Linked DNA regions of Homo sapiens. The protein of the gene in region 1 purifies or fractionates together with the protein of each later gene. This does not show direct contact. Each region holds a gene or a part of one and is shown in the gene's direction. Other genes may lie near its edges. The genes, in order: LTN1, ILKAP, NOP14, CLSPN, IVNS1ABP, TAF4 and PFKFB3.

The links.
Region 2: the proteins of LTN1 (region 1) and ILKAP purify together in Homo sapiens (affinity purification with mass spectrometry; one large-scale study listed by BioGRID and IntAct). This does not show direct contact.
Region 3: the proteins of LTN1 (region 1) and NOP14 purify together in Homo sapiens (affinity purification with mass spectrometry, with the first as the bait; one large-scale study listed by BioGRID). This does not show direct contact.
Region 4: the proteins of LTN1 (region 1) and CLSPN purify together in Homo sapiens (affinity purification with mass spectrometry; one large-scale study listed by BioGRID and IntAct). This does not show direct contact.
Region 5: the proteins of LTN1 (region 1) and IVNS1ABP purify together in Homo sapiens (affinity purification with mass spectrometry, with the first as the bait; one large-scale study listed by BioGRID). This does not show direct contact.
Region 6: the proteins of LTN1 (region 1) and TAF4 purify together in Homo sapiens (affinity purification with mass spectrometry, with the first as the bait; one large-scale study listed by BioGRID). This does not show direct contact.
Region 7: the proteins of LTN1 (region 1) and PFKFB3 purify together in Homo sapiens (affinity purification with mass spectrometry, with the first as the bait; one large-scale study listed by BioGRID). This does not show direct contact.

Annotation. Positions count from the first base shown.
Region 1 is NC_000021.9:28,982,618-28,987,148, reverse strand, and holds part of LTN1 (E3 ubiquitin-protein ligase listerin), read left to right. Parts: intron 1-214; coding exon 215-418; intron 419-911; coding exon 912-1,010; intron 1,011-2,226; coding exon 2,227-2,457; intron 2,458-4,531.
Region 2 is NC_000002.12:238,178,910-238,183,440, reverse strand, and holds part of ILKAP (integrin-linked kinase-associated serine/threonine phosphatase 2C), read left to right. Parts: intron 1-1,254; coding exon 1,255-1,376; intron 1,377-4,531. UniProt on the Homo sapiens protein: Protein phosphatase that may play a role in regulation of cell cycle progression via dephosphorylation of its substrates whose appropriate phosphorylation states might be crucial for cell proliferation.
Region 3 is NC_000004.12:2,939,275-2,943,805, reverse strand, and holds part of NOP14 (nucleolar protein 14), read left to right. Parts: intron 1-1,454; coding exon 1,455-1,614; intron 1,615-2,076; coding exon 2,077-2,224; intron 2,225-4,160; coding exon 4,161-4,279; intron 4,280-4,462; coding exon 4,463-4,531. UniProt on the Homo sapiens protein: Involved in nucleolar processing of pre-18S ribosomal RNA. Has a role in the nuclear export of 40S pre-ribosomal subunit to the cytoplasm.
Region 4 is NC_000001.11:35,735,479-35,740,009, reverse strand, and holds part of CLSPN (claspin), read left to right. Parts: intron 1-480; coding exon 481-645; intron 646-752; coding exon 753-874; intron 875-1,427; coding exon 1,428-1,555; intron 1,556-1,912; coding exon 1,913-2,018; intron 2,019-2,588; coding exon 2,589-2,671; intron 2,672-2,934; coding exon 2,935-3,096; intron 3,097-3,403; coding exon 3,404-3,514; 3' UTR 3,515-4,531.
Region 5 is NC_000001.11:185,298,066-185,301,274, reverse strand, and holds part of IVNS1ABP (influenza virus NS1A-binding protein), read left to right. Parts: intron 1-78; coding exon 79-303; intron 304-716; coding exon 717-838; intron 839-931; coding exon 932-1,058; intron 1,059-1,144; coding exon 1,145-1,276; intron 1,277-1,391; coding exon 1,392-1,565; intron 1,566-2,986; coding exon 2,987-3,209. UniProt on the Homo sapiens protein: Involved in many cell functions, including pre-mRNA splicing, the aryl hydrocarbon receptor (AHR) pathway, F-actin organization and protein ubiquitination.
Region 6 is NC_000020.11:62,055,217-62,059,747, reverse strand, and holds part of TAF4 (transcription initiation factor TFIID subunit 4), read left to right. Parts: intron 1-4,531. UniProt on the Homo sapiens protein: The TFIID basal transcription factor complex plays a major role in the initiation of RNA polymerase II (Pol II)-dependent transcription.
Region 7 is NC_000010.11:6,230,082-6,234,612, forward strand, and holds part of PFKFB3 (6-phosphofructo-2-kinase/fructose-2,6-bisphosphatase 3), read left to right. Parts: intron 1-2,813; coding exon 2,814-2,861; 3' UTR 2,862-4,531. UniProt on the Homo sapiens protein: Catalyzes both the synthesis and degradation of fructose 2,6-bisphosphate.

The DNA of each region.
Region 1 (4,531 bases):
AGAAACAGAATAATTTCTAGGATCAGTATTGATGGATTCTTGGCAACAAAACCATTAATCTTTGGGGAACTTTGCAATAGATGAAATTTTAGGCTAGGAAAAAAGAAAATAAAATAAAAGCTCATTCTGACCATGGGAATAGCCAAGGAATTATAAAGTTAAGTTTTGAACCCTTCCTGGACTCTGACTTTTTTCTCCGTAATTTTCTTATCAGCCTTCAAACAGTGGCCGAGCTGCAGAACTCCTTGCCAAAGAACAGGGAACAGTGCCTGGATTTATTGGTTTTGGAACATCTCAGAGTGACCTAGGCTATGTTCCTGCTATTCAAGGAGCTGAAGAAATTGACAGTCTTGTAGATTCTGATTTCCGAATGGTGCTGCGGAAACTTTCAAAGAAAGATGTCACCACAAAATTAAAAGCAAGTTTTCTTGTTTTCATAAAAATTATCAAGAAAATCCCTTTGTTAAAATAAAATGTCATTAGCATGTTTTATGTAAAGAAAAATGAACAATTTATTGCTAAGTTCTTTTATAATTGTACTTTTTTCTGACACAGAGTCTTAAACTTAGTTGATATTTATTTTCTAGGTCGTAAATTAGTTTGTTACAGTGAACTTTTTTAAAGTGCTTTGGAATTTTGGCTGTATAGTTTTTCCCATTAGGGAATGTAACTTTGACCTTGTAACTTTAAATGAGGTTTTTTTGTTTGTAGATGTTTTATTTTTAAAAAAACAACTGAAGAGTTTCTACCGTAGTAGCCTGTGAAAGAGCTCTTCAAACTAGTCTCATATGGCATAAAGAGAAATAGTGTATTCTCCTATTACATAAAATAGACAAAGCTTCCAGAACAGAATAATCTATAGCCAGTTATTATGGTTGTTAATCCTAATGATGTTAATAACTTACTTTTAGGCTATGCAGGAATTTGGAACCATGTGTACAGAGAGAGACACAGAAACTGTGAAAGGAGTTCTTCCATATTGGCCAAGAATTTTTTGCAAAATTTCACTTGTAAGTATTAAAACTTTGCTAGTTTATTTCTGTTGTATATTTTTTGGTTGGAGTCATGGAGACTCTCAAATTTATAATGTTGATTTTTGGTGAGGGTTATTAAATGTTATGTCAGCATTGTTATGCAGATTGAATTGTTAACACTTGAGAAGAGCGTGGAAATAAAAAAAGAGATTGGGGCCTGGTATGGTGGCTCATGCCTGTAATCCCAGCACTTTGGGAGGCTGAGGTGGGCAGATCACTTGAGGTCAGGAGTTTGAGACCAGCCTGGCCAACATGGTGAAACCCTGTCTCTACTAAAAATACAAAAATTAGCCGGGTGTGGTGATGGATGCCTGTAATCCCAGCTACTTGGGAGGCTGAGGCAGGAAAATCGCTTGAACCCGGTGGGGCGGAGGTTGCAGTGAGCCAAGATTGCACCACTGCACTCCAGCCTGGACAATAGAACAAGACAATGTCTTTAAAAAAAAAAAAAAAAAAGATTGGATTGTGTTGGGTTATGAAGAACATTTAGGAAGTCTGTTTTCAGAAATTAGGTTGTTACTGGAGAATTACCCAGGTGCTTTCCAGTTTTAATAAATTTTGATAGTGATTTTATTCCCTGTATATTTGCTGCAGAAGAATGAGAGTGAGTTGCTTAATTATTGAAGACCCAACTTTTTTTTTTTTTTTTTTAATTGAGACGGAGTCTCATTCTGTCACCCAGGCTGGAGTGCAGTGGCGCGATCTCTGTTCACTGCAACCTTGTCTCCTGGGTTCAAGTGATTCTCCTGCCTTAGCCTCCTGAGTAACTGGGATTACAGGTGTGTGCCACCATGCCCCGCTAATTTTTTGTATTTTTAGTAGAGACGGGGTTTCACCATGTTGGCCAGGCTGGTCTTGAACTCCTGACCGCCAATAATCCGCCTGCCTCGGCCACCGAAAGTACTGAGATTATAGGCACGAGCCACCAGGCTCGGCCTCAAGGCCCAACTTTGAATCTGTCTTGAATACAATCCTATCTCATTGGGAGAAGGGGAGAAAGAAAAATTAATAAATTATTTTACATAGTTTCTGATTTAAAAACCTCCAAATTATTGATTTAAAAAAAATGATTTCAGTTTAGCTTAATACATAGGTGAATTCTTGGTAATGGGTCATTATAGCATATCCGGAAATGTCTGTGATTGTTTTTATGGGCTAGAGCTATTTTAAATCACATTTATATTTTTAATAGGATCATGACCGTCGCGTCCGAGAAGCCACACAACAAGCTTTTGAAAAACTTATCCTTAAAGTAAAGAAACAGTTGGCTCCCTACTTAAAAAGTTTAATGGGATATTGGCTAATGGCTCAGTGTGATACTTACACACCAGCTGCGTTTGCAGCAAAAGATGCATTTGAAGCGGCTTTTCCTCCAAGCAAGCAACCTGAAGCCATAGCATTTTGTAAGGATGAAATTACAAGTGTAAGTTCTGGAATCATTCTGAATCTATTTTTTTTTTTTAAGTATTTAAGGGTTATAAGCATAATGACAGCTCTTTTACTTGGGATTGTAGGGGAATGAGTAAGTAGAGTATTTCCAACTGAAGGTTGCCTTTTTAAAATTCTGTTTAGTTAAATAACCATTTTGGATCTTTAACAAGATTAACATTTTGGATTGGATCTTTCTACAGTATTTAAATTTTCCATTTTAATTTTGAAGTCTTTATTATATTTTTAAAAAGTAGATGTTTTATGTAATCTAAACAAGTAATATATCTAAAAATAAATCTAAAATTATTTTCTCTCGTGTTTCCATATCAATATATATATATATACAGATCTAACTTAGTGTCTTTTTCTTTTTATTGGCTCTCTGGTATTACTATACATGGATGTACTGTAGTTTATTTAACTTTTTAGATTAATATACATTTGGATTTTTTTCCAATTTTTATCATAACAAATGCTATTTCAGTAAACATTCTTGAGTAGATCTCTTCATACCCTTGTGGGAGTGATACTTACTAGAACTTCTAGTAAGCATATGTTGGGCCAAAGAATAAGAACATTAAAATTTTTTATAATGATAAATGGCCCTTCAAAAGGCCAAACAAATTTATACTCCCATTTTCAGATAAAGTTTCTCCACACTGGGCTAACACTTTTGCCATAACTTTCTCATAAAAAGTTACCAGCCATACCTGTTTGTGGCTTTCAGTGTGTCTGTTTCTAGTAGTGTCTCATTTCTTCCCCCTTCATTTTCTATTCCCAATATATGGACTAGAAAAACCAGACAACAAAGTTGTTAGAATTATATTGAGAAATAAAAGTAGATGAAGTAGAAGTGAGGAGGGAATTGATAATTTTTTAAAAAATCTATGCTTGCATTTATTCCCTTATTTAGTACTCCTGTGTTTCCACAACACCCTGTGTATAACCCTACTTAAACATTTCCATCTGACCCTCTCCCCCTGCTTTCCTTCCTCCTTTCAATTAGCCATCCTTCCTGTGGCTCTCCATTACACTTTTAAGTTCAAATTTCTTGTCTTGACATACAAGGCTCTGCATGATCTGGTCCCTGCTTCCCTATCTAATCTCTTCACCCAGCACTCCCCAACACATAACTTGATTGTAGTACCTCATTTAGGTTCTTCCATTCTTCATTTCTCAGGTGTACCAAGCGTGTTTTTCTAGAGAGAGGGTTTGTAGCTTTAATCATATGCTCAAATGGAGTTTTCTAACCCATCTGTAGCATAAGAATCATTGGTTGATTTAAAATGCCAAGTTATAAACGTTACAAGAGTGAAGTGTCATGAGTTTGGACGCTAAGAGCTTTAGGAAATGGATTTTGAGACAACTAGTTTGGCTCTTCATAGGCTTTAGAAAATAAATTTGTTCTTGGCTTTGTCATGGATGGATAACTAATCATTGAACATTGGGTTATTTCTTCCATTTTATTTTCCCTTTAGTTGGCTATGTTACAGTTCATTACAGCTGTTGGCATTGAACTGTCTCCAGTTCCAAACCCATGTATTAGAGAGGAGTTAGGCAAATGAAAATCAAAATGTCAGCATTATAGATAGTATATCATACTGTCTATAAGACATGGGCTCTGGGTCACACCATTGGTTCTAGTCCCACTCTGCCATCAGCTAGCAACTAGGTGTGTGACCTTGGGCAAGTTTCTGTGCCTTCATTTCATAATCTATAAAGCAGGAATTAACTTGTACTTCATGGAGTTCTGAGGATTGATTTAGTTAATGCCTAAAATGTGCTCAAAGCAATACCTGGCACATGCAAAAGCTCAATAAGTGTTAGTTATTGTTATTGCTGATAAAGCAGTTACTGGAACAGTGGACTCCCTTGCACTGCACCCCAGGAGGAAACAGACTTCCGTATATTTGAAAACCTCATACCTTCCTCTGTGATGGAGCAGAGCACAATGTATGGTGTTCTTTGTGGGCAAGCAGGCTTACAGAAAGAGGGGAGAGGAAAGCAGAGCCTAATTTATCTCCCAGATTCACATTCACTTCATTGCTGTGTGAAAGAGAAATGGA
Region 2 (4,531 bases), on another chromosome or scaffold:
ATGATAGACTTGTGCTTTAAAACCCAGATCCCGTCTTTTTTGTTTCTTTTTTCCTCCCGTGGTTTGTGTGTGTGATGCTGTGGATCAGAATGTAATCAGTATGCAAGTAGCCTAAATCTTCTTTTATTTCCTTTCTCTGACCTTAGACAGTAATGAATGAAAAGCTTTAACCCCTGCCTATCAAAGTTACTGTGATTTCAGAGTAACTTGAGAGCTGTAGCTAGAAAATACCAGATGAGGTGCCATTCATCACCCGAGCCCGGTCCCTGGCTGAGGGAGAAAGCCCAGGGTGTTGTTCCCCCTGGTGACAGTCGTGGGGATGCTGTAAAGCCTAGAGGGTGCTGCTGCGGAAAGCTGGATGCAGACCCTGCCTCCTCTGCATCAGGACCATGTGTTCCGTTCCGTTGCCGCTTTTTCACCCGGCCTCCTTGCTCCCTAGGCAGTCACAGGAATCAAGTGACTGTCCACACTTAAGCAGCATCTTTAGACCCCTCCCCACGATGCTTCTGGGGGGATGATTCATCAAATACTAAGTGCTAGGGGTATGGCAGAGACTATAACAGATGACAGCCCCTGCCTGGTGGAGTTTACATTCTGGTGGCCCTTTAGTAGACTGGCCTTAGCCCACATGTGTTTAGACCACATGACTTCAGAAATAGCAAGAGGAAAATTGGCAAAAAAACAAAGACAGGAGTCAGACCCAAATTTGAATCCTGGCTCTGCTCTGTGACTTTATTGAGTTACTTATTCTTCGTGCCTCAGTGTCTTCCTGTAAAACAGACACAATGAACCTGGCAGGGGCGAGAACACCTGGAGGCACTGGTGTGGACGGCCTACCTGGCACTCGGCCAGCATGCACAACGCTTGCCCTCCTCTTTGCCTTCCATAGGCTCATGGACATGTCTCTGGCCTTCTAGACTCCAGGCCAAAAGGGACCTTGATACTTGTTGAGTGCTTCCTTTCATGTCACAAATGTGACAACAGCCAGAGTGAGCACTTGTCTGTAGTTATTCAGCAGAGTTTGTACCAGAGTTGATATCAAAACCAGGGGCGACTCTCTCCCTAACTGTTGTGTCTTTGACACTTCTTTGCTGCTTGATTCTCTGAACTTACGTTTATCAGCAGGAGGCTGAATGTGAAACTCCATTGTTAACTGTTTTCTTCAAACTCCATTGTTAACTGTTTTTTTCAACTGGTACCTTTAGATGCTGCGCCCACTGAATTTCATGACTATTACAATCTCCATCTTCCCAGGCAATCTTGTGTCGTTATAATGAGGAGAGTCAAAAACATGCAGCCTTAAGCCTCAGCAAAGAGCATAATCCAACTCAGTATGAAGAGCGGATGAGGATACAGAAGGCTGGAGGAAACGTCAGGTAACCAAGGGACTGAGAGGAGCTCATGGGAAGGAGGGCTGTTAGCTGTAGAAGGGTCCCGAGACCTTCAAGGAGTAGAACTTCCCCTGTTACGTAGTCTTCAGTGTGACGAGGCTCTGTCTGAGATCTAACACTGGTGACATAGGTGGATGACAGTTGTAGATTTCACATGTGTCCACGTGGAAGGAAACTTGCCTCCCTACATTTGCAAAAGGACAAATTCATATTTACCATTCACAGTGTTTTCTCTGTGCCTAGGAAGTTTCTTAAATACTGTCACTTTTCGTGGTGGCGGGCGCCTGTAGTCCCAGCTACTCGGGAGGCTGAGGCAGGAGAATGGCGTGAACCTGGGAGGCGGAGCTTGCAGTGAGCCAAGATCGCACCACTGCACTCCAGCCTGGGCAACAGAGCGAGACTCCATCTCAAAAAAAAAAAAAAACCAAAAAAAAAACCTGTCACTTTTCACATTGAATAAGTTACAGTTTTAGGTGAATTCTCCAGAGAGAAAATCTGAAGTAGTTAAGACGGGTTAAGTAATGTCTTTGGACTTCTTGGGAACAACTGGCACAGAGGACCATGTCTTACTTGGCTCTGTCTTTTGCAGTTTCATTTCACTCTCTCTTTAAATCTTTGAAAACCATATGTCTGCTCTGGTTTTATTATCTGCTTCTATCCAAGGCAGCTAAAGGAGGGCATAAGTCTTTTCTTTAGAATTCCACTTCAAGGACATTGCATTATGAATTAGACCAGGAGTATTTTCTGGTTTGTTGTACAGTTTGACTATTAAAATTTTATTTTCTGCCAGAGATAAGAGAGATGTCATCTCTTAGTATAAGACTGCACTTACCTATCCTTTGAAGTGTAGTTTCTCTTCTGTTGTTCATTTGGGGAAGCCTTTTTTATTGCTCCAGGCTGAATCTAGTCAGTGGTACAGGGAGGTTTCTGGAGAGTAGTTGGAACCCTTAGCGTTTGTTCAAAAAGCTCTTGGATTAGTAAGAAGCAGTTTCATTCACGGTCGCTGCAGTTTACATGAGCAGTGATGGGATTATAGGCCTGGTTTCAGGCCTCAAGCAGTGCTGTTGGCCCAGTTTTTGCCACCGTAACTACTGTCCTGGTAACTACTGTGGACAGTCATGCCTGAGAATGTGACTCTAACATGAGCGTAAGCATCACCTCTTCTCCCCTTTCTTGTAAGTTTTACATTCATTCTGCTTTTGCCTGAACTCCTTGAAAATAATTGGATACTGACAGTCCGATGGCTGAAAGTAAGGCCAGTTGTGTTGCAGTTGCTTCCTATATCCCAGTCCTTACCTGATTCAGAGAAGTGTTTACATGCCTTAGAGAAATCATTTGACAGTGTGGGTTTTGGGTGACTCCTTCATCTCAGAGAAGGGCTGAGGCTAAGAGACCAGCAGCGTGGGTCGCTGCCCCTGAGCAGCAGAGCCCTGTCGTGGTCTGTTCTCCTGCCTGAGGCCAGGGCTGGCTGCCCCACTCTCAGCTTTTATCATTAAATTTTTCAGACATACAGAAGAAACTTGACAATAGTAAAACATTTCCAAATCTACTAGCAGTGAACATTGTGTCATGTTTAGTCTGTATAGATGTGTGTCAGGCTGAGCTGTTTAAAAGTTGCAGATATGATGACATAACAGCCTAAATACTTAAGCATGCATCTCCTGAAGATAAGGACGTTCTTGACATAATTAGTGAGAATTTTCACACCTAAGACAATAATATTTCCTTAGGTTAAGTTATCTAATACCCTGTCTATATTTTTATTTCCCGAGTTATCCCCAAAGTATCTTTGTTTCAAACCAGGGTCTAGTCAGCATCCATGTCTGCCGTGGACTTGGCATTTCTTTTTCTTTTTCTTTTTCTTTCTTTCTTTTTTTTTTTTGAGAGAGAGAATCTTGATCTGTTGCCTGGAGTGCAGTGGCACGATCACAGCTCACCGCAGCCTTGACCTCTGAGGTTGAAGCGATCCTCCAGCCTCAGCCTCCCAAGTAGCTGGGACCACAGGCATGTGCCACTGTGCCTGGCTATTTTTTTATTTTTTGGTAGAGACAGGGTCTCTGTCTGTGTTTTCCAGGCTGAGCTAAGTGATCCTTCTGCCTTGGCCTCCCAGAGTGCAGGGAATACAGGTGTGAGCCACTGCACCCTGCCGAGACTCATTTCTTACCAGGCTTTGAACCATGTTATAGGCCAGCAGTTGTACAGAGTCACCAATATTCTGAACCTGCGTATTTTTTTACGGTGTTATTTCTGTATATTTCCTATAAACTGGAAGTTAGGTGTAAGACCTTCTTTAGATTCAGATGAGATGTTTTTAGCAATGTTTTATGGGGGATGCTGTATACTCAGTAGTCCTTCACTTCAGTAGGCACATAATGTGACCCTTAATTAAGTTGCCAAATCCCAGCACTTGGCTCCGGTGGTGACAGCCGGATGCTCCTGTTGCCTTGCGTCATCAGCAGGTAATCTGGGGAGGTTCACTGGTACCTTGTGAATATTCTGTTTCCTGTCAGCCTTTCACCTAATGGTCTTAGCATCCCTAAATCATTATTTCATCAGGGATGTCAAAGATGATTTCCATATTCTGTGATTCTTTTCACATGTATTAGCGGGCATTCTGTAAAGAAACTTCTTATCATCAATAAGAGAACATCATAGATTCTTCTAAAAAAGCAGGGTCAATGTTTCATTCTGTCCTTTATCCATTTGAAAGGAAGATAGTCACCTATAGTTGTGGAAATCAGTGTTTTCCTTTCACTCCTCTGCTTCTTTCCCTCCATCCTTCCTTTGTGAATCACTGTGTGCCAACTGACTATTCATTGTGTTGTAGTCACAGTCATGGGGTTTTCTGCTGCTCACTTGATTTCAGATATGGCCAGTGGAAACTCCTGCTGGCTGGTTCCTGTGTCCTTTTCATATGTGTGTATTAATGTTTAAGAGCCAAAATCCAGGCTGGGTGCAGTGGCTCACATCTGTAATCCCAGCACTTCGGGAGGCTGAAGTGGGTGAATCTCTTGAGCCTAGGAGTTCAAGACCAATTTGGCAACTGTGGTGAAACCCCATCTCTACAAGAAATACCAAAAAATAAAAAAGAGAAATTAGCCAGGTGGGGTGGCACACACTTGTGGTCCTACTCAGGAGGC
Region 3 (4,531 bases), on another chromosome or scaffold:
TGGCGAAGACTTAGTGTCAGAAATACTTAAAATATCTTAATTTTTTGTATTATGTGTTAAAATCATAATATTTTGGTATTTGGGGTTAGATAAGGTCTATTGTTAAAATCAATCTTAACTTTTTACTTTTTCTCACGTGACGACAAGGCAGTGTGAAAGTTCTCGTGCAGCTCACACAGGCCGCGCTGCTGTGTCGCTTCTCTTAACGCTCTGAATTCAGGAGCGAGGGCGGCAAGAGCAGTGTTGGGATGAGGAGCAGTCTGCACACTGGCTGCCCTCCTGGGCCCTCACCCCAGCCCCTGTGCTCCTCCCCCTTCCCCTGATGCCAGCCCTGCTCCTGGATGCTTCCTCAGCACTTGCTGCTTCCCTCTGGGGGGTGAGGAGCTGCACAGCCTCTTCCTGAGCTCTTCCATGTCTGTGGACGCCTCTCCCAGCCTGACCAGAGGTTGGACCTCAAGGCTCAGACCCCTGTCCTCTATTTCCAGCTCACCGTGCAGTGCTAAGCGCCTGCATGTCCAGGGGACTGACCTGAGGAGCAGGTGCTGTGGCATCATTCACACCACCAGCAGAGTCCCTTCCAAGAGGGGTCTGGCCCACTCTTCCGGTTCAGTGCTCCCATTCTGCCACCACCTGCCTCCCAAGGCTCCTGTCTGTCAGGCTCGGTGCTGGGCGCCAGAGGGGCGCGGCCGCCCACATGCTCCCTGCCTCCGGGAGAGCCACCTGTAGATAGCTGCAGTCCCACGTGTGAAGGGCTGTGACGGAACAGGCTGGGCACAGGTGGAGTCAAGGAAGGGGTGGGCATCTCGGCTTTGGGGAAGTGTGGGGCGGGGCCTGACCCACGCCTTCCCCTCTCGCTTGGCCCGGCACCTCTGCCCCACTGTACCCACTCTCCACCCCTCCCCGTGTAGCCACACCCTCGGCCTGGATTGCCCTTCTCCGTGGCGAGTGAATTGACTCCTGCGTCCTACAGGCCTTTGCTGACGTCTGCCCCTCAGGCCTCTCCCGCCCTCCACCGTCACCCCCGACTGACTCTCCTGTCTCCCTCCTGCCCCTCCACTTTCCTTTCTCGTGTTCTGTCTGGTCCATTTGCTCCTCTGGGTGCTGTGCACTGCCTGTCTCCCCGACAGGGGCAGGGACTTCAGTCTGTTCCCGGATGTGGCCTGAGCGCCTCATCAGCCCCATGTGTGCCTAGTAGGCCCCAGGAAGTCTGTGGCCAGCAGGCCTCTCAGGCAGGATCAGGCACTTGGCTCTCACCGCGCCCCCTGCCAAAGCTTTTCCCCTCCCCTGAGGTGTCCCTGCCCACGCTGAAACCCTCAGTGTCTGGCACAACCCAGAAACATAAAAATCGGTGTGCGTCTGTTAGAGGGTGAACTTCCACAGGCTCGGTGCCGCAGAGCCTGCTGGGAGCCCAGTAATGTTCAGGCCATCTCTGTCCTGTCGCACTTGGAATTCAGGTTCCACTCTGGTGCACCCTTTCAGAGCGCTTGGGAAGAACTCGGAACTGCTCGTGGTGTCTGCTAGAGAGGATGTGGCCACGTGGCAGCAGAGCAGCCTCTCCCTCCGCTGGGCGAGTAGACTGAGGGCCCCAACTTCGACAGAGGCCAATCACATCCGGTATGTGAGGGGACCCCGCTTTGGGGCCTGTGCCCTACAGCGTCCCCAGAGGCAGGAGAAGCCACTCGTGCTTTCTGATGTGCTGTTCTTAGTGAACTTGCCGCCCGGCCGTTTGGTTTGATGGAGGCCGAAAGCCTTTCTGAGGCATGTTGGCTTGCTGTCCCTTTTTCTTTTCATTTTCAAAATACATTTGCTTGATTTCACAAATCATAATTTGGAACCAAAAATGGAGCCGCCCCATCCCAGCTGGCGCTGCGGTTCCCACAGCCTCCCCTCCTGCGTTAGGCCTGACCCTGAGCCTGCCTTGCCCGTGGTTGCATGGGCCCAACCCTGGCCGGCCAAGGTGGCCACACTGGAGTTTTCAGCCTAGTGGAAGTGGGGAAGTTCATTTTTGCCACGTTATTGGTTTTGTCAGTGACAAACAGAACAAGTTGGACCTCCTCTTGCCTCCTGCCCTCACAGACTGTCCTGCCTGGCTGTGGGCCTGGCCCTGCTGAAGCGCTGCGTGCTCATGTACGGGTCCCTGCCATCCTTCCACGCCATCATGGGGCCTCTCCAAGCCCTCCTCACGGATCACCTGGCGGACTGCAGCCACCCGCAGGAGCTCCAGGTGAGGCTTCCCGGCCACTAGGGTGCTCTGCCTGGGCTCAGACATGTCCCTGAGCTGGGGCCAAGCTGGTGGCAGTCAGTCATTTGATGCTGCAGCTGTAAGTCAACACCATCTTTGCAAAATCACAAATATGAAGGGAAGTAAAATCATAAGAGTGGGCAGTGACGGTGAGCAGTGCTGGGCTGGAGTAAAGCAGATGCTGCATCTCAGGCGGCAGCTGGGAACTGTCGCCTTGTGTGCTTCCTCCAAGAGGCCGCACGGAGGGTGCACCAGCGCCCAGGGGTCAGCCCCTGCCAGGCCTGGACAGTCAGCTCTGAGCCGCGCTCTGCAGTCCCGATGGGTTTTCCAAGGATGGTCTCACTATCCTGCACAAGGTGACAGGAAGCCCCAAGGGACAGTCTCAGCTGGACCCAAGAACAAGTCTTTGATGGCACATCCTGTCCTCTACAGGCTGCTCCAAATTCACCTATGGCCTACCCGCCTCCCTGCCTTTCACCCTGACCCTGACAGGCTGTACCCTGCATCCACTTCCTGCTTGACATGGCTGTGGCTTGTGCCTTTCATCCTGCCCCAACCCTGCCCCTTATTGGCCCGCACCAGCCCAGGATGCTGCTGGAGCCGAAGGCATCAGTGCCATCTCCGCAGCTACCCCCACAGGACCGTCCCGCACCACCAGCACAGCCCTGGCAGCCTTGCCTCGTGCCTTCCCCTCATGCGCTCCGGCCTCCTCGCAGGCCTGGCTTCGTCTCTGGAGTAGTTCTCTGCACCTAGAACTCCCCACAGCCATGCTGCTCGCGCCCACACCCTTGGGAAGCCAGGCCTTCCCTGGCCCACACTGTGCCGTGCTCCCTGCGTTTTGTCTGTGGTGCTGACCCCCGGGCACGTTACACCGTCCTTGTCTCTGCCCCACTAGGATGAGAGTTCCATGAGGACAGCAACTCGGCTCGTTCCGGCCAGGTCCCTGGAGCATAGAGCAGATAAGCTAGCTATCACAGACTCCGTCGCCTGGTCAAAGGCTGATGAGGATGAGATGTGAGCCCTGCCCCTTATCCTGTATCCACTTCCTGCTGGTGTGGCTGTGGCTTGTGCCTTTTATTTAAAAGAATTTGGGTTGGCCTGGCCGAGGGGCACAGCAGGTCTCATGGTCTCGGTAGACTGGGCCAGTCAGGCCCTTGAGTTTGGTCTCCATGGAGACGAGGCATTCCGGCACTCGAAGGTTACATCCACATGGGCCCAGGAGTGGCTGTATCTGTGGGTGCAGCCAGGGTTCCAGGACACACCTGTGCAGGAGAAAGCGGGTAGGACCAACCTCAGTGAACTACCTTTCGGGAGATTCCTCAGAAGCCACCAGCCAACTCTTCTGGAAGCCAAGGTCTTGGTGAAAATGGGTCTTAACCATCTGGTTCTGTTGGCTTGAAAATAAGGTCAAACTGCCAAGACTGGTGGAAACCCTGCCCCGCCTAGCACCCAGCGTCAGTTTGCACACTGGGCTCTAGCATGCACACGGCCCCCCGCGGCAGAAAGGGGTTCTCCTGTGAGCCTTCTCACGAAGCAAGTGGCTCACGGCCTTTCGTGCCAAGTTTGTCTGGGAAAGAGGGGTTCTGTTGACGTTTCTGGCTGTGAGGAGCACAGGCTATGGTGACCTCCAACTCCCCAAGTCCCCTCCTTTCAGAGAGTGCTCTCAGGGGCCAGCCCACGGCCCTCCCTCTTCAAGAAGACAGTGGCTTTACTTCGTTCCGGCTGTGCCAGGACTTGAGCAGCCACAGCCTTGGCTTACCCCCCCGCCCACCGGTAGGCGCACAGCAAGGGCACCATCCTGCTGCAGGGAGCTCGCAGCACTGTCCTCACGCTGCCTTGACACCACAGAACCCGTGCGTGGAGCTCAGGGCACGCAGCAGGTGAGTCATCGCAGAGTCGGGGATTTCGTGTTTTTCAGGAGCTGTGTCAGAGCACACTGACCGAAATGGAAAGCCAGAAGCAGCTCTGCCGGCCGCTGACCTGTGAGAAGAGCAAGCCTGTCCCACTGAAGCTTTTCACACCCCGGCTGGTCAAAGTGTGGGTGCTGGCAGCATCTCCCTGGGAGGCCAGGGCTGTGGGCTCAGTGGGAGCTGACGGGGGGCGTCTGCCAGTTCTGCAGTTGAGCAGATGACTACGGAGTGAAGCCACACTCCCAAGCAGGCTCTGGCTGAGAGGTGGGGACAGACTCTTGCTTCCTTAACAGTGGCTTTCTGGTTGTAGCCTCGAGTTTGGAAGAAAACAAGGCAGTAGTAAGGAGGAACAGGAAAGGAAGAGGCTGATCCACAAACA
Region 4 (4,531 bases), on another chromosome or scaffold:
TCTAGCTATGTGACCTTGGGTAAATGTAATCTTTCTGAGGCTCAATTCCCTCAACTGTAAAATGAAGAGAATAATAGTACCCATTCCTATGATAATATGTTAATGCCTGTAAAGCACAGTTATTAGCACACAAGACATATTAAGTGATCAACTTTTAAATACAGATGCTCCACATCTTACAATGGGACTATATCCTGATCAATCCATCATAAGTTGAAAATGCACTTTCATATTATCCAGATATAACTCCATCGTAAATCGAGAAGCATACTAAGTGCGTATCACATTCATGTCATCGTAAAGTTGAAAAATCATTAAGTCAAACCATCATAAGTGGAGACTATTACAAAAAAATTTAAATATTATCAAATGTATTATGTTTATTATTATTAGAAGTGACTCTGTTCTGCTTTTCTTTGCTTCCATATTCTGTGAGTATATTCATTGTTGCATTTTCTAATCCTCAAAATTGCTTTCTAGGAGGTTGAGGAAATACCTGGAGGATGAGGCAGAGGTGTCAGGAAGTGATGTGGGAAGCGAAGATGAGTATGATGGGGAAGAAATTGATGAATATGAAGAGGACGTAATTGATGAAGTACTTCCTTCTGATGAGGAACTGCAGAGTCAAATCAAGAAAATACACATGTCAGTATCCCAATAAGCCCTTCTGAGTAATAGGGTACATCTTAAGACAAGCCCTGTAACCAGCCAGAATGGTCCTTGTTTTGAACACCTTATTTCTCCTGTTGCAGGAAAACTATGTTGGATGATGATAAGCGACAGCTACGTTTATACCAAGAGAGGTACCTTGCTGATGGGGATCTGCACAGCGATGGTCCTGGGCGAATGAGGAAGTTTCGATGGAAAAACATAGGTATCTTGGTTGTTGTCTTTAAAAGCAATCAGTTACGGGCTGAGCATGGTGGCTCACGCCTGTAATCCCAACACTTTGGGAGGCAGAGGCAGGTGGATCACAAGGTCAGGAGTTCAGGACCAGCCTGAACAACATGGTGAAACCCCGTCCCTACTAAAAGTTCAAAAATTAGCAGGCTGTGATGGCACGCGCCTGTAATCCCAGCTACTCAGGAGGCTGAGGCAGGAGAATTGCGTGAACCCGGGAGACGGAGGTTGCAGTGAGCAGAGATCATGCCATTGCACTCCAGCCTGGGCGACAGAGCGAGACTCCATCTCAAAAAAAAAAAAAAAAAAGCAAACAGTTACAATGCATATTTGTCGAGTTTCAGATGGCAAATGGCAAGCAAAACTATAACAGGCTATGTGAAGACCTAGTTGTAACTGTTTTCTGTTAATGGATGGGAAAAGTTTACATCATTATATAGTAAATGATAAGGGTTTATTTTTTGTCTGTCCAAGCACCCTCTCCTGTGAGGACTGCCGAATGCTGATTACCTTCACTCTTTGTTTAGATGATGCTTCCCAGATGGACTTGTTCCACAGAGACTCTGATGATGATCAGACTGAAGAACAGCTTGATGAGTCAGAAGCCAGGTGGAGGAAGGAGCGAATTGAACGAGAGCAGTGGCTTCGGGACATGGTAGGAGTTCACCTACTCTGACCCTAGTTTATGAGACTGTCCCTTAGCTTGTCATGATAGTTTCAAAATCTTAGCTTGTCATGATAGTTTCAAAATCTTAGGCAACATATTGCTATCTCTTTTAATCCTTGAGCTATCTTTTGTGTTTTGAGAAGGCTATACCATAGACAGTTCTCTTCATGTTTGTCTAAGATTAATTTTTTTTTGTCTAAAGCAGCAAAGGCTGCAAAAAGGAAAACAAATACCCCAGGAACTCTAGTTTCACAATCCAGGCCATGCTAACTATTTAGGAAGGTTATAGACTTTTAATGCTGTATATATATATATATATATATATATATTTTTTTTTTTTTTCAGGCACAGCAGGGGAAAATTACAGCTGAAGAAGAAGAAGAAATTGGGGAGGACAGTCAGTTTATGATACTGGCCAAGAAAGTTACAGCCAAAGCACTGCAGAAGAATGGTGAGCTCTTGTTTCTCCTTAGGGTCTAGCCCCCTGGATTGTTAGTGGTAGAGCTTTGGAGGTGACTCTAACCTTCAGGAGCTGTTGCAGCTTAATCATAAGCTTGTGTCTAATACTGTCTTAAAGAGGCTTCACAGAGGTGGTGGGAGACAGTGTACTTAGATCTTAGACTATTGGGCAGTAGAGACTGTATTCATGAGTATATGTGGCTGGTTTTACTTTATGTTCTAAGGCTCAGAGTAGTTAATTCTGGCTTTCTCTAGTTGCCCAGGATTGTATACCTAAGTGTTAGAGGTAGGATTTGAATCCAGGAATATTTAACTCCAGAAATGAAGCTCTTCACTATTCCCTACACTGACCACTTCTGTTTTTCTTAAATGATTACTGTTCAACTTAGTTGTGTCTCTTCTTGGAGCCAATTATTATAGTTTGAAAGTCACCATTATATAGAACAGAGTTCCCATGGCTTTAGCATATTGATTTAGTTACAAGATTTCTTAGCTTGTTTAGATTTAAAAGTAATTCTAATCAGCTTTTCCCAGAATAGGCCTCTCTGTCTTTTCTTTCCAGCCAGTCGCCCTATGGTTATTCAGGAATCAAAGTCTTTGCTCAGAAATCCTTTTGAAGCCATCAGACCAGGAAGTGCTCAACAGGTTGGTTGGGAACCTTGTTAATCTGACATCATAGTCTACAGGTTATAAAGGCCCAGGTCCAGCTTAGAGAATAGTCTCTGTCATTAGAGGAAGGAGGTGGCTGCAGGGAAAAAGTTAATGTCAAAGGAGTCTGCTATTTCTTTTCTATTTGAATAGGGTAGGCATATGTACCCTCAATATCTAGGGGGAAGCAGGGAGGGAAGGACTTTTCATTCTTTAGTTGGCACTTGGGATTTGATACCAGATGACTCTTCTTTCCTCAGGTGAAGACAGGCTCACTGCTAAACCAGCCCAAAGCTGTGCTTCAGAAACTGGCTGCTCTCTCTGACCATAACCCCAGTGCTCCTCGAAATTCAAGAAACTTTGTCTTTCATACACTTTCTCCTGTCAAGGCTGAGGCGGCAAAGGAATCGTCTAAGTCTCAGGTATGGAATTTGAGAACTAATATGGTGGCTTCCCAAACCAGAATTTATTCATTTATTTAAATTTAAAAACAAAAATTCTGGCTTAACCTCTATGCTGCAATGTTGAAATCTTGCACTCCCCGATAAGGTACAAGAGAATTGCTACCCCAGTCGGTAATCAACTTTTAAACTTGCCGAGAAAGTTTATCTTTCTTTCTTTTTTTCTGTTGTTAATCATCCACAATTTATGAGTTGCTTGAGAGCTAATTGAAGGTAAATACTTGTATGAAGGTCTTTAGCTGGCCCTGACTCCCTCTCTGCTCTCTAGGTAAAGAAAAGGGGTCCATCTTTCATGACTTCTCCTTCACCTAAGCACCTCAAAACAGATGATAGCACTTCAGGATTGACGCGAAGCATCTTCAAATATTTGGAGAGCTAACACCATCAAAGGTGCCAAAATCTACATTGAGACTGCTTTGAGAAGTTTCTAGCACTGAAAGTTGGAATTGACACTCCAGCCAATGATCCTTCCTTCTTTCATAATCAATGCAATAAGATTGCAGACAGAAATTCCAGTGATTTCTACTGCACAGCTCTGGACATCTCTTTTCCTAGTATTATTCCCTGAATTGGCCACTGATTTCAATTCTGCAGTATTTACAACATCAACAACTCATGGAATACTTGGGTGAGGTTTCCTTTTTTTTTTTTTTTTTAAGATGGGAGTCTCACTCTGTTGCCCAGCTTGGAGTGCAGTGGCGTGATCTCGGCTCACCACAATCTCTGCCTCCCAGGTTCAAGCGATTCTCCTCCTTCAGCCTCCCGAGTAGCTGGGATTACAGGCATGTGCCAATACGCCCAGCTAATTTTTGTATTTTTAGTAGAGACGGGGTTTCACCATGTTGGCCAGGCTGGTCTTGAACTCCTGACCTCAAATGATCCATCCACCTCGGCCCCACAAAGTGCTGGTCACATGCATGAGTCACTGCACCTGGCCTTGGGTTAGGTTTCACTTCCTCCATTAGACATTTGACATTTTATTGTAGCAGCTTTCTGGGTTAATATCTCTTTGTGATTGATAGAAGTGGTTGGAAGAGGAAGAGTAGGGAAAAGTGTGACATTACAGATTAAACAGTGAAAATCAGTACCATAATGACTCCTTTACACCCATGAGATACGTACCATGATGACCAGGGCTCGGTGAAAGAAAGATTTCTTTTTTTTTTTTTGAGATAGTCTCACTTTGTTGCCCAGTCTGGAGTGCAGTGGCGCAATCTCGGCTCACGGCAACCTCTGCCTCCCGGGTTCAAGTGATTCTCCTGTCTCAGCCTCCCAAGTAGCTGGGACTACAGGTGCATGCCACCACACCTGGCTAATTTTTGTATTTTTAGTGGAGACAGGGAGTCACCATGTTGGCCAGGCTGGTCTCGATCTCCTGACCTCAAGTGATCCAGCT
Region 5 (3,209 bases), on another chromosome or scaffold:
CTGGAGTCCAATTCAGGATCATATACACAAACCAAAAGTAATAATTACATCTTAAACATGGAACTCTTGTGCTTACAGATAACACTTACTTGTGCCTGGCTGTGCTGGATGGTATATTCTGTGTCATTTTTCTTCATGGGAGAAACAGCCCACAGAGCTCACCAACAAGTACTCCAAAACTAAGTAAGAGTTTAAGCTTTGAGATGCAACAAGATGAGCTAATCGAAAAGCCCATGTCTCCTATGCAGTACGCACGATCTGGTCTGGGAACAGCAGAGATGAATGGCAAACTCATAGCTGCAGGTAAGAACAGAAGCATTCAACTGGCTAAGCATGTAGATGGGCATTTTTGTGACATGCAAACTTTCAAAGAGAGGGTTTAATATGCCATCTTTCACGGCAATCCAATAAGATAGGGAAATAACAATACTATTGAATATGGCTAACCTTCAGTTCAATGTCTGTATCTAATTTTTAAAAAAATTATGTCATGGCTAAATTTTTCTAATATTCAAGCCAAGACTAAGCAGTTTATTTGTACTGATAATGCGATTTTTCAGCTATTACAAGCACTTAGTTAAAAGATCAACTAAGGCATCCTTAAAAAGTTTTAATACTTTTTCTCATTGTGCAGATTTCTTAAACTTACAGGACTGGAAACCGTGGTCCAGTTTAATATTTTAAACATAAATCTTTATGGTTTTATTTTTTACCAGGTGGCTATAACAGAGAGGAATGTCTTCGAACAGTCGAATGCTATAATCCACATACAGATCACTGGTCCTTTCTTGCTCCCATGAGAACACCAAGAGCCCGATTTCAAATGGCTGTACTCATGGTAAGCGCATTATGTTGCAGGAGCAACCCCTATTTAGCTTTTTCCTCGTAACTTCAGGATGTTAGAAATTCTCATCTCTCACTTTTGGCATAGGGCCAGCTCTATGTGGTAGGTGGATCAAATGGCCACTCAGATGACCTGAGTTGTGGAGAGATGTATGATTCAAACATAGATGACTGGATTCCTGTTCCAGAATTGAGAACTAACCGTTGTAATGCAGGTAATAATAGTTTTCTCCTGAGATATCCAGTATTTAAATATGATAATTAAATTATCAATATGTAACTTTATTTTATACTTACATAGGAGTGTGTGCTCTGAATGGAAAGTTATACATCGTTGGTGGCTCTGATCCATATGGTCAAAAAGGACTGAAAAATTGTGATGTATTTGATCCTGTAACAAAGTTGTGGACAAGCTGTGCCCCTCTTAACATTCGTAAGTTGATTTTTTTTCCTTTTTTTTTTTAAAGACCTTCAAATCAACAGTATGTGTAGTATACACTTAGAGTCTGGGAGATGTAGCAATAATCTTGACTTGACTTTTCTTGTAGGGAGACACCAGTCTGCAGTCTGTGAGCTTGGTGGTTATTTGTACATAATCGGAGGTGCAGAATCTTGGAATTGTCTGAACACAGTAGAACGATACAATCCTGAAAATAATACCTGGACTTTAATTGCACCCATGAATGTGGCTAGGCGAGGAGCTGGAGTGGCTGTTCTTAATGGTGAGTGTTGGGATTTGGAGAGGTGAAGAGTAGATAGTGGCAAGACTTTGTTCTAAAACTCTGAGAGAAAAGGCCAATGACTATAGTTGTACAGTTAAGAATTCAGAAGCAGTCATCTCTTTTGATGCAATGGAGATTAGGGTGATTTGTCCTTTAGAAATATATTTTCTAATCAAAGACTTATAATACTTGATATATAACTTAATTCACCAGTCTTTTGATGGGTGCACTGAGTGAATTTCCAAGTCATTTTCTTCTATAAAACATATCCTTAATGCATCATCTTGAATTTTGAGTTTCCCCTTCTTTACAGCCAGAATTTAAAGAATCTGATCTGCAAAACAAAGGCAAATCCCTAGTCTTTTCCAACTGTCTACTCCATACCTAATTGGAAATACAACCTTTAGACTATTTTAACAAGTTTCCAAAGTATTAAACTTTTTAAATGTAGACATAGCTTTCTTTCCACCTCCATTTTATTGACTTTTAATGTCTAATTATATAATCATAATTTAAAAGTTAGCATTGTTTTTGGTACCAGGCTGAACCTTAGCAGGCTTATGGCTCAACTGGTGAAGGCTTAAGTGTAGACACAGCCTGTTGGCCTAGAGCATTGTCAGCGTGCTTTACAGATACATAGAATGCAAGCTGGTTAAGTGATGGTCAAATGAAAAAATAATGAATTTGAGAATCAGTAATAAAATTTTTTCTAAGCTACGGAGTATTTATTGCTAACATTTTATCTATTTGAAAATAATCATAACTCTGTTTCCAGAAGAAATTTCTGTACCACAATCATTTTATTTTTTTAATTGAGACATGGTCTCACTGTGTTGCCCAGGCTGGTCTCGAACCCCTGGGCTCATGCAGTCCTCCCACCTCAGGCTCCCATAGTATTGGGATTATAGGCATGAGCCACCGCATCTGGCCCCAAAATCATTTTATACAGTTGGAAAGCCCTAAGATATTTTTCTGCTTTCCTATAATCTCTTCTGAGTCTTAATTCTGTACATTGGGCTGATATAAAGTCCAGTGCACAGAACTATTCTGGTTTGCTACTTAGTAGCTGCATCTGTAGGATAATTGTCCAGCTTCTTCCTGCTTTTCTTCTTCTCTGAAATAATAATAGTAACTACCACAGAGTTGGTGAAAATTGTACTTATTTAGATGCTGCTACTGCTTCCTCTCCCTCCCCCTTTTAAGTTGCCTAAGTTCCACGTGGGAATGGTTTTTTTATTGATTTGATTCCCAGCTCTTAGAGAGTATTTGTCATATTAGGCATTTAATAAATTCTTTTTGACAAAATGAACAGGCATTTCTATTTTTAAAACCACTGATTTTTAAGCAAAAGACAGATTTAGGGGAGTTTTACCTTATTACACTTTAATCTCTGGATTTACCCCATCTCATTTCTCTTTTAGGAAAACTGTTTGTATGTGGTGGCTTTGATGGTTCTCATGCCATCAGTTGTGTGGAAATGTATGATCCAACTAGAAATGAATGGAAGATGATGGGAAATATGACTTCACCAAGGAGCAATGCTGGGATTGCAACTGTAGGGAACACCATTTATGCAGTGGGAGGATTCGATGGCAATGAATTTCTGAATACGGTGGAAGTCTATAACCTTGAGTCAAATGAATG
Region 6 (4,531 bases), on another chromosome or scaffold:
GTAGGAACCTCCAAGCCCTCGATCATCCAGGAAACAGTTGCTGTTTAGGGTGTTCACCTGTGGTGCCCGGCTCAGGCAGCGTGATGGGGGCGTTTACTTAATCAGGCCTTTGATAGCAATAAAGCAGTTAAATAAAGGGGGCTTTTGGCTGCAGGCCCTTCTGTGCCGAGTGCTGTGCACCTGGGCTTCCTGGACGCTTCTGCTTCCAGGTGGGCCTGCGGTTGCTATGGCATTGTGGTGTCAGCTGCAAACACGTACACAGCTGTTCTTTCCAATTCTTGCGTGGAATAATGAAGTAGAATAAGTGCTGTCAAGTTATGTTCGAAAATGGGGTGCTTAATATTTCCATGGTTGGACCATGAAAGTTTTGAGTGAAAACTTTTGATTTTTACATATCTCAAATGAACATTTGCACCAAAGATGTACAGCTTTCGAAAAACAAAGAGATACATGTTGTCCACCATGAGGCCCCTCTCCCATTTGAGAAAGTACCTGGTGTCCGCTGTTGGTCAGTCCGCGGTGGTCCCAGGCTCTTCTCCAGGCCTGCCTTCTGCCTGGAGCAGGCCATGCTGCAGTGTGCAGGATGATGTAGTGAAGTGCCCCCAGCTTCTCCCACCGTGGGTGTCATGTTGTGGAGCAGAAGTTGTCGTTGGGAACCGCGTGTGAGGGCAGGAGAAATTGTTTGTTGGGAGCCGCATGTGGGGACAGGAGAAGTTGTCTGTTGGGGACTGTGTTTGGGGACTGGAGAGGTTGGCCCCCCGAGCCCCATTGTCTGTGGCCTGGTGTGTAGACCTGTGTCCGTCCTTCCTGAGGTCTTGCTGAGGTTGGCCCCCGAGCCCCATTGTCTGTGGCCTGGTGTGTAGACCTGTGTCCGTCCTTCCTGAGGTCTTGCTGAGGTTGGCCCCCGAGCCCCATTGTCTGTGGCCTGGTGTGTAGACCTGTGTCCGTCCTTCCTGAGGTCTTGCTGAGGTTGGCCCCCGAGCCCCATTGTCTGTGGCCTGGTGTGTAGGCCTGTGTCCGTCCTTCCTGAGGTCTTGCTGAGGTTGGCCCCCCGAGCCCCATTGTCTGTGGCCTGGTGTGTAGGCCTGTGTCCGTCCTTCCTGAGGTCTTGCTGAGGTTGGCCCCCCGAGCCCCATTGTCTGTGGCCTGGTGTGTAGACCTGTGTCCGTCCTTCCTGAGGTCTTGCTGAGGTTGGCCCCCGAGCCCCATTGTCTGTGGCCTGGTGTGTAGACCTGTGTCCGTCCTTCCTGAGGTCTTGCTGAGGTTGGCCCCCGAGCCCCATTGTCTGTGGCCTGGTGTGTAGACCTGTGTCCGTCCTTCCTGAGGTCTTGCTGAGGTTGGCCCCCCGAGCCCCATTGTCTGTGGCCTGGTGTGTAGACCTGTGTCCGTCCTTCCTGAGGTCTTGCTGAGGTTGGCCCCCCGAGCCCCATTGTCTGTGGCCTGGTGTGTAGACCTGTGTCCGTCCTTCCTGAGGTCTTGCTGAGGTTGGCCCCCGAGCCCCATTGTCTGTGGCCTGGTGTGTAGGCCTGTGTCCGTCCTTCCTGAGGTCTTGCTGAGGTTGGCCCCCCGAGCCCCATTGTCTGTGGCCTGGTGTGTAGACCTGTGTCCGTCCTTCCTGAGGTCTTGCTGAGGTTGGCCCCCGAGCCCCATTGTCTGTGGCCTGGTGTGTAGACCTGTGTCCGTCCTTCCTGAGGTCTTGCTGAGGTTGGCCCCCGAGCCCCATTGTCTGTGGCCTGGTGTGTAGGCCTGTGTCCGTCCTTCCTGAGGTCTTGCTGAGGTTGGCCCCCCGAGCCCCATTGTCTGTGGCCTGGTGTGTAGACCTGTGTCCGTCCTTCCTGAGGTCTTGCTGAGGTTGGCCCCCGAGCCCCATTGTCTGTGGCCTGGTGTGTAGACCTGTGTCCGTCCTTCCTGAGGTCTTGCTGAGGTTGGCCCCCCGAGCCCCATTGTCTGTGGCCTGGTGTGTAGGCCTGTGTCCGTCCTTCCTGAGGTCTTGCTGAGGTTGGCCCCCCGAGCCCCATTGTCTGTGGCCTGGTGTGTAGGCCTGTGTCCGTCCTTCCTGAGGTCTTGCTGAGGTTGGCCCCCCGAGCCCCATTGTCTGTGGCCTGGTGTGTAGGCCTGTGTCCGTCCTTCCTGAGGTCTTGCTGGGCCCTTTGTGTCCCCCACTGGGCATCACTGGAAAGCGCCGATGTGAGGAAGGCACACGTGGCATCTTGATCTCAAAGTTGTGAGAGGAGCGTAGCCAGGTAGGGTGGTGTTGGGGTACATGGATCTTGGAGGGACCATTTCCGAATAGTCAGGAAACCCCAGAAACAGTTTTTTCTGTCTATCAAATTTGACATTAGGTTTTAGAATGAGGGCCCTGCAGTAAGAAGGTCTGTGGCTCCCAAGGGAATTGTTTCGGGGTTGGGGTCAGAGGTCTGAGTGGACAGTGCGTGGACAAGGCAGGACACTAGGAGCCAGGGAGCTGAACCCTTCTCTGGGCGCTGGGTGTGGCCCAAGCACACCTGGGGCAGAGGCTTTGTGGGTCAGCTGGTCCACTGGGGGCTGCAGACACTGTGGGCAGAGGTGCTGCCGGTGGCAAGGTGGGCACCTTGTTCCATGGGGTCGGGGGACACAGCCTTTCATTTTCTGACTTTGCAGTAAAGTGTGTGGGACAATGACCTGTGAAAGTTTTTAAAGGAAGTTCTGTGTCTTCTGCGGAGGAGCGTGGTCTCCGTGGTGTTCATAGGAGCCACGCACGGTGCTCAGAGCATGCCCAGAACGCACAGGCCTGCCTTGCTTTGGAGCTTTGCAGAAGGTTACGAATGTCAGTGTCAGAAGCATCATGACAGGAACAAGGGTGACACGGGAAGCAGGCTCGATTGGCTTTTTTATGTAACTGTAAGTGTAAAAAATTATTAGTTACTTCAACATGATTTTTTTGATGATAAAATTAGTTTTTTTTTCATTATAGGAAGTTTGGGAAGTAAACTGTAAAGAAGAAAATACAGTCACTTGTAACGTCACCTGGCCCAGACTGCTAAAATTTCGGGGTGTCTCACTTCAGCCTGTGTCTGCTGCATATCTGCTTCTGTGTTTTTCTGTAATTACAGTTCTCCTGTGACCCAAGTCTGTGCTTTGCCTTGTCCTGTGTCTGGTGCACTTTCCCTTGGCCCTCGGTGGTCTCAGGCTCCAGCATTTGGTAACGGCCCCTGTGCCAGGGTGCTGTGCTGATGGCGACAAGTGGCCCCCTGTAGGTGAATGCCTTCATGTCTAACTGTGTGTGTGTCTGGTGGGTTGAGCATTTTCAAGGCTTTGATACATATCACCTTCCACCAGATTACACTTTTAAAACCATTGCCAGAATACGACTTTTGGGAATGGATACCATTCTAAAGGAAGAAAATCGTGTCTAGTTTTAAGTTGCATTTCTTTGAGTGAAATTAGACCTCGTTCATGTGGATGTTGGCTATTTATTCTCGCCAACTGTGCCTATTTGTATAAGCGCGTTCTTGTTTTTTTCTTTTTTTTCGAGACAGAGTCTCACTCCATCACCCAGGCTGGAGTGCAGTGGCGCAATCTCAGCTTACTGCAACCTCCGCCTCCCGGGATCAGGTGATTCTCATGCCTCAGCCTCCCGAGCAGCTGGGAATACAGGCATGTACCACCACACCCAGCTAATTGTTGTATTTTTAGTAGTGACGGGGTTTCACCTTGTTGGCCAGGTTGGTCTCGAACTCCTGACCTCAAGTGCTCCGCCTGCCTCTGCCTCCCAGAGTGCTGGGATTACAGGTGTGAGCCACTGCGCCTGGCCTGCATGAGCACATTCCGAGGGTGTGTACTGGGCCACGGGGGAAGGCTGATGAGGGTACCAGGGTTCAGCTGTGGGGGGTCCCAGGCTGACAGCCCCTGCTTTCATGGTGTGTCCGTTGTGGGGGCCAGGCAGTTAACAGGCAAACAGATCAGCAGGAATGTCTGATTGTGATTAGCACCCTTGGGTGAGAGGGGACTGCTGGGCAGGGTAGTCAGGGAAGGCTTTCCCAGGAGGCTGAGGGATGAGAAAGGGGTCAGCCACATGCAGCTGGGACCTGTATCCAGGCCAAGGAAAGAGTAGATGCAGGGGTCCCCCGTGTAGATTGTAGGGCTGCCCTCTGATAGTGTGAATTGATATTGTAGGGCTGCCTGTACACAGTGTGAATTGATTGTATCACAGGGCTGCCCCCAAGTAGTGTGAATTGGTTATATTGCAGGGCTGCCTCCAGGCAGTGTGAATTGATTTTATTGCAGGGCTGCCCCCAGGCAGTGTGAGTTGATTGTATTGCAGGGCTGCCTGCACACAGTGTGAATTGATTATATCACAGGACTGCACAGTGTGAATTGATTGTCTTGCAGGACTGCCCGCAGGCAGTGTGAATCGATCGTATTGCAGGACTGCCCGCAGGCAGCATGAATCGATCGTCTTGCAGGACCGCCCGCAGGCAGCGTGAATCGATCGTCTTGCAGGACTGCCCGCAGGCAGCGTGAATCTATTGTCTTGCAGGACTGCCCGCAG
Region 7 (4,531 bases), on another chromosome or scaffold:
CGGGGATAGTCCCCCACCCGCTAAAGCTGATCTTACCTATCTCCAAGATGAACATAATAGTGCGTTTGCTAGAATCCCTCCTGTTCAGCAAAAATACATCCGATGGACCCATCACACCTGACTCAGGTTGGAATTTCACTCTGGAGTCCCATTGTCCCGTCCATCCTGGGTGCGTGACCCCACATCTAGGATTGTAGCCACATCTGATTCTAGGAGTCCACCTGGGCTCTGTGACCAGAATTTATGATGAAAGTCAGACCAAGCCAGGCCTGCATCTTGGTTCTACTCCTCCTGGCCTCTATCCTTGGCACTCTGGGCAAGTTAAAGCAATTCTAGGACCTCAGCTTCCTCATCTGTAATATGGAGATAATAACTTCATAAAGTTGTCATAATGAGACTATAGATACAGCACTTAGCACAATATCTGGCCCCTAGGAAGTGCGTGGGGGATGACGGCTGCTGTTGTTATCAGGGAGGAACTTGGTGCCCTGGGCCTGTGGAGACTTCTGGGCTTGCTGGCATTGGGTCAGCCTTTGGATACCCTCCTGTAACCTGAGGGATTTCTTCTCTGGGGCAGCAGGAACACCCAGACTTGGGGAGGGGAAATCCCTGGGGTCTCAAGGCCATGGCCTGAAGTCTTTTTTTTTTTTTGAGATGGAATTCTGCTCTTGTTGCCCAGGCTGGAGTGCAGTGGCGCGATCTTGGCTCACTGCAACCTCCTTCTCCCGGGTTCAAGCGATTCTCCTGCCTCAACCTCCCGAGTAGCTGGGATTACAGGCGCCCGCCACCATGCCCGGCTAATGTTTGTATTTTTAGTAGAGATGGGGTTTCACCATGTTGGCCAGGCTCGTCTCAAACTCCTGACCTCAGGTGATCCACCCGCCTTGGCCTCCCAAAGTGCTGGGATTACAGATGTGAGCCACCACGCCCAGCCTAGAGTCTTCACCCCTGTGATCTTGGTTTCCCAGTAAGATGGGGACGAACAACTGTCCGGACCTGGTGCTCTGGGGTGCCTTCCTGGGGGCTGTGCCGGCTGCTTGGGATCGAGAGATCACCTGGCATTTGTGATGCAACCTTCATTTTTAAAATTTCAAATGCACACTAGAAAATCCTACTAAAGATTTTCTTTTTTTTTTTCCTTTTCCAACCTGTTTCTTCCTCTCCCCCACTCTGCTTGAAAGACGAACTGTCTGTCACATTTTCTCAAAGTTTTCTCCTTACTAACTGTGGAAGGTAAATGCCTGGGTGCATGTCCCTCTGTCCCGCACCGCGTCACGGCATCTGGGTCTGTGTGCAGACTGGCCATCGTGCAATGCGGGGCTCATCTGTCTCCATGCCGAGGTTGTTAAGTGCAACACCATTGTCGTGAGGTCCTTTCTAGTCTGTCTCTCACCCCCCACGTGTCCTGAGCTGGGGCCCCTGGGTGAAGGACGTGGACATCACCCGGTCTTGCAGGCTCTCCACTGTTATTGTTGCATCGCCATCACCTGTGGGTGCCGGAAGCTGTGGGCTGGTGGTGTTGAGGACAGGTTGGAGCCAGCAGATGCGGAGGGAAATGTCAGCCCTGCTCTGTGATCCCACAGCCCGGCTGGGGCTCTCCCTAGATATGAGGACCCAGGGCTCTCTGAAGAGAATTGCCCCCTCCCAGTGGGCACCCATCACTTCCATCATCCTTCGGCGGGCACCCATCAACCCCCGCAGGCAGCCGTCATCCCCTGGCAGGCACCTATCACCTCCTGGTGGGCACTCATCACCTCCCGGTGGGCACCCATCACCTCCTGGCGGGCACCCATCACCTCTCGGCGGGCACCCATCACCTCCCGGTGGGCACCCATCACCTGGGTTCCTGAGTCTGGCCCACGCCTGGGCGATAGCTCTGATGCTGCCCAGCCCCGTGACTTTCCTCCCTGTGGATGGCTCCAGCCTTGGACCCCCAGTTCTGTGTGGGGTGGGCATGGGCCACGGTGGCCCTGTGTGCCTGGGCTCTCTCCCACCCTCTTTAGAGCAGTCCAGGTGGAGACACTCAGGACTGGAGAGAATAGTTTTAAACATTGTGTGTTTTCTTGTTTTTTGAGGCGTAGGTGAAGCAGGTCACGGAAGGAGGCCCGCTGTGCAGTGGCTGCAGTCAGTTGTGTTCCTCGCTGATTTTGGAGCATGTTTTTTTGCGGGGGGTGGGTGGCGGGGGGGTTTGGTACTGGCCAGTGCCTTAGGGGTGGAACTCCCTGCGAGGGCCACTGTGATCAGAAGTGGGGCAGGGCTTTAACAACACCCCTCTGCCTGGCTCCCCACCTGGGCCTCCCCACCACGTCCAGCCATTCCATGTATCACCTGTGTTCTGCCTGTCAAGCTCTGTTCCCAGAATCTGGATGCAGGAGCTGGGAGTGTGGCTCTGTTTTGAGCTGAGTCGAGAGGAGGGGCCCTGTGTGTCCTTGGAGGCCCCGGGCTCATCCTCTGCCTGGCTGTGGTTTGTGGGATTTCTATGGGGTCGTGAGCATGAGGCTCCTGTAGTTACTGGTGCCCAGCGCCGCGCAGCTCACGGTCCTCCAGGAGCCACACGGCCCCCACCAGGCGGGCTCCAGGCCTGGTGCCCAGCCCCTTCTCTGAGACTCTGGGGTTATCTTGCGTCATGTTCTGAGGCCCACCTGGGCTCTCTCCCGCCTGTGAGGTTGGCAGCACCTTTCTTGGATCATGTTCTTTGTCTGGGATGGAGGGAGGGAAGAATTCTCCGTTGCATGGCTCGCGTCTTCTGCTTTAGAATTCAGCCAGCTACAAATCCTAACTCCCTCCCCACCTCTCTTTTCTCCTGAAAACAGAACATGAAAGGCTCCCGGAGCAGCGCTGACTCCTCCAGGAAACACTGAGGCAGACGTGTCGGTTCCATTCCATTTCCATTTCTGCAGCTTAGCTTGTGTCCTGCCCTCCGCCCGAGGCAAAACGTATCCTGAGGACTTCTTCCGGAGAGGGTGGGGTGGAGCAGCGGGGGAGCCTTGGCCGAAGAGAACCATGCTTGGCACCGTCTGTGTCCCCTCGGCCGCTGGACACCAGAAAGCCACGTGGGTCCCTGGCGCCCTGCCTTTAGCCGTGGGGCCCCCACCTCCACTCTCTGGGTTTCCTAGGAATGTCCAGCCTCGGAGACCTTCACAAAGCCTTGGGAGGGTGATGAGTGCTGGTCCTGACAGGAGGCCGCTGGGGACACTGTGCTGTTTTGTTTCGTTTCTGTGATCTCCCGGCACGTTTGGAGCTGGGAAGACCACACTGGTGGCAGAATCCTAAAATTAAAGGAGGCAGGCTCCTAGTTGCTGAAAGTTAAGGAATGTGTAAAACCTCCACGTGACTGTTTGGTGCATCTTGACCTGGGAAGACGCCTCATGGGAACGAACTTGGACAGGTGTTGGGTTGAGGCCTCTTCTGCAGGAAGTCCCTGAGCTGAGACGCAAGTTGGCTGGGTGGTCCGCACCCTGGCTCTCCTGCAGGTCCACACACCTTCCAGGCCTGTGGCCTGCCTCCAAAGATGTGCAAGGGCAGGCTGGCTGCACGGGGAGAGGGAAGTATTTTGCCGAAATATGAGAACTGGGGCCTCCTGCTCCCAGGGAGCTCCAGGGCCCCTCTCTCCTCCCACCTGGACTTGGGGGGAACTGAGAAACACTTTCCTGGAGCTGCTGGCTTTTGCACTTTTTTGATGGCAGAAGTGTGACCTGAGAGTCCCACCTTCTCTTCAGGAACGTAGATGTTGGGGTGTCTTGCCCTGGGGGGCTTGGAACCTCTGAAGGTGGGGAGCGGAACACCTGGCATCCTTCCCCAGCACTTGCATTACCGTCCCTGCTCTTCCCAGGTGGGGACAGTGGCCCAAGCAAGGCCTCACTCGCAGCCACTTCTTCAAGAGCTGCCTGCACACTGTCTTGGAGCATCTGCCTTGTGCCTGGCACTCTGCCGGTGCCTTGGGAAGGTCGGAAGAGTGGACTTTGTCCTGGCCTTCCCTTCATGGCGTCTATGACACTTTTGTGGTGATGGAAAGCATGGGACCTGTCGTCTCAGCCTGTTGGTTTCTCCTCATTGCCTCAAACCCTGGGGTAGGTGGGACGGGGGGTCTCGTGCCCAGATGAAACCATTTGGAAACTCGGCAGCAGAGTTTGTCCAAATGACCCTTTTCAGGATGTCTCAAAGCTTGTGCCAAAGGTCACTTTTCTTTCCTGCCTTCTGCTGTGAGCCCTGAGATCCTCCTCCCAGCTCAAGGGACAGGTCCTGGGTGAGGGTGGGAGATTTAGACACCTGAAACTGGGCGTGGAGAGAAGAGCCGTTGCTGTTTGTTTTTTGGGAAGAGCTTTTAAAGAATGCATGTTTTTTTCCTGGTTGGAATTGAGTAGGAACTGAGGCTGTGCTTCAGGTATGGTACAATCAAGTGGGGGATTTTCATGCTGAACCATTCAAGCCCTCCCCGCCCGTTGCACCCACTTTGGCTGGCGTCTGCTGGAGAGGATGTCTCTGTCCGCATTCCCGTGCAGCTCCAGGCTCGCGCAGTTTTCTCTCTCTC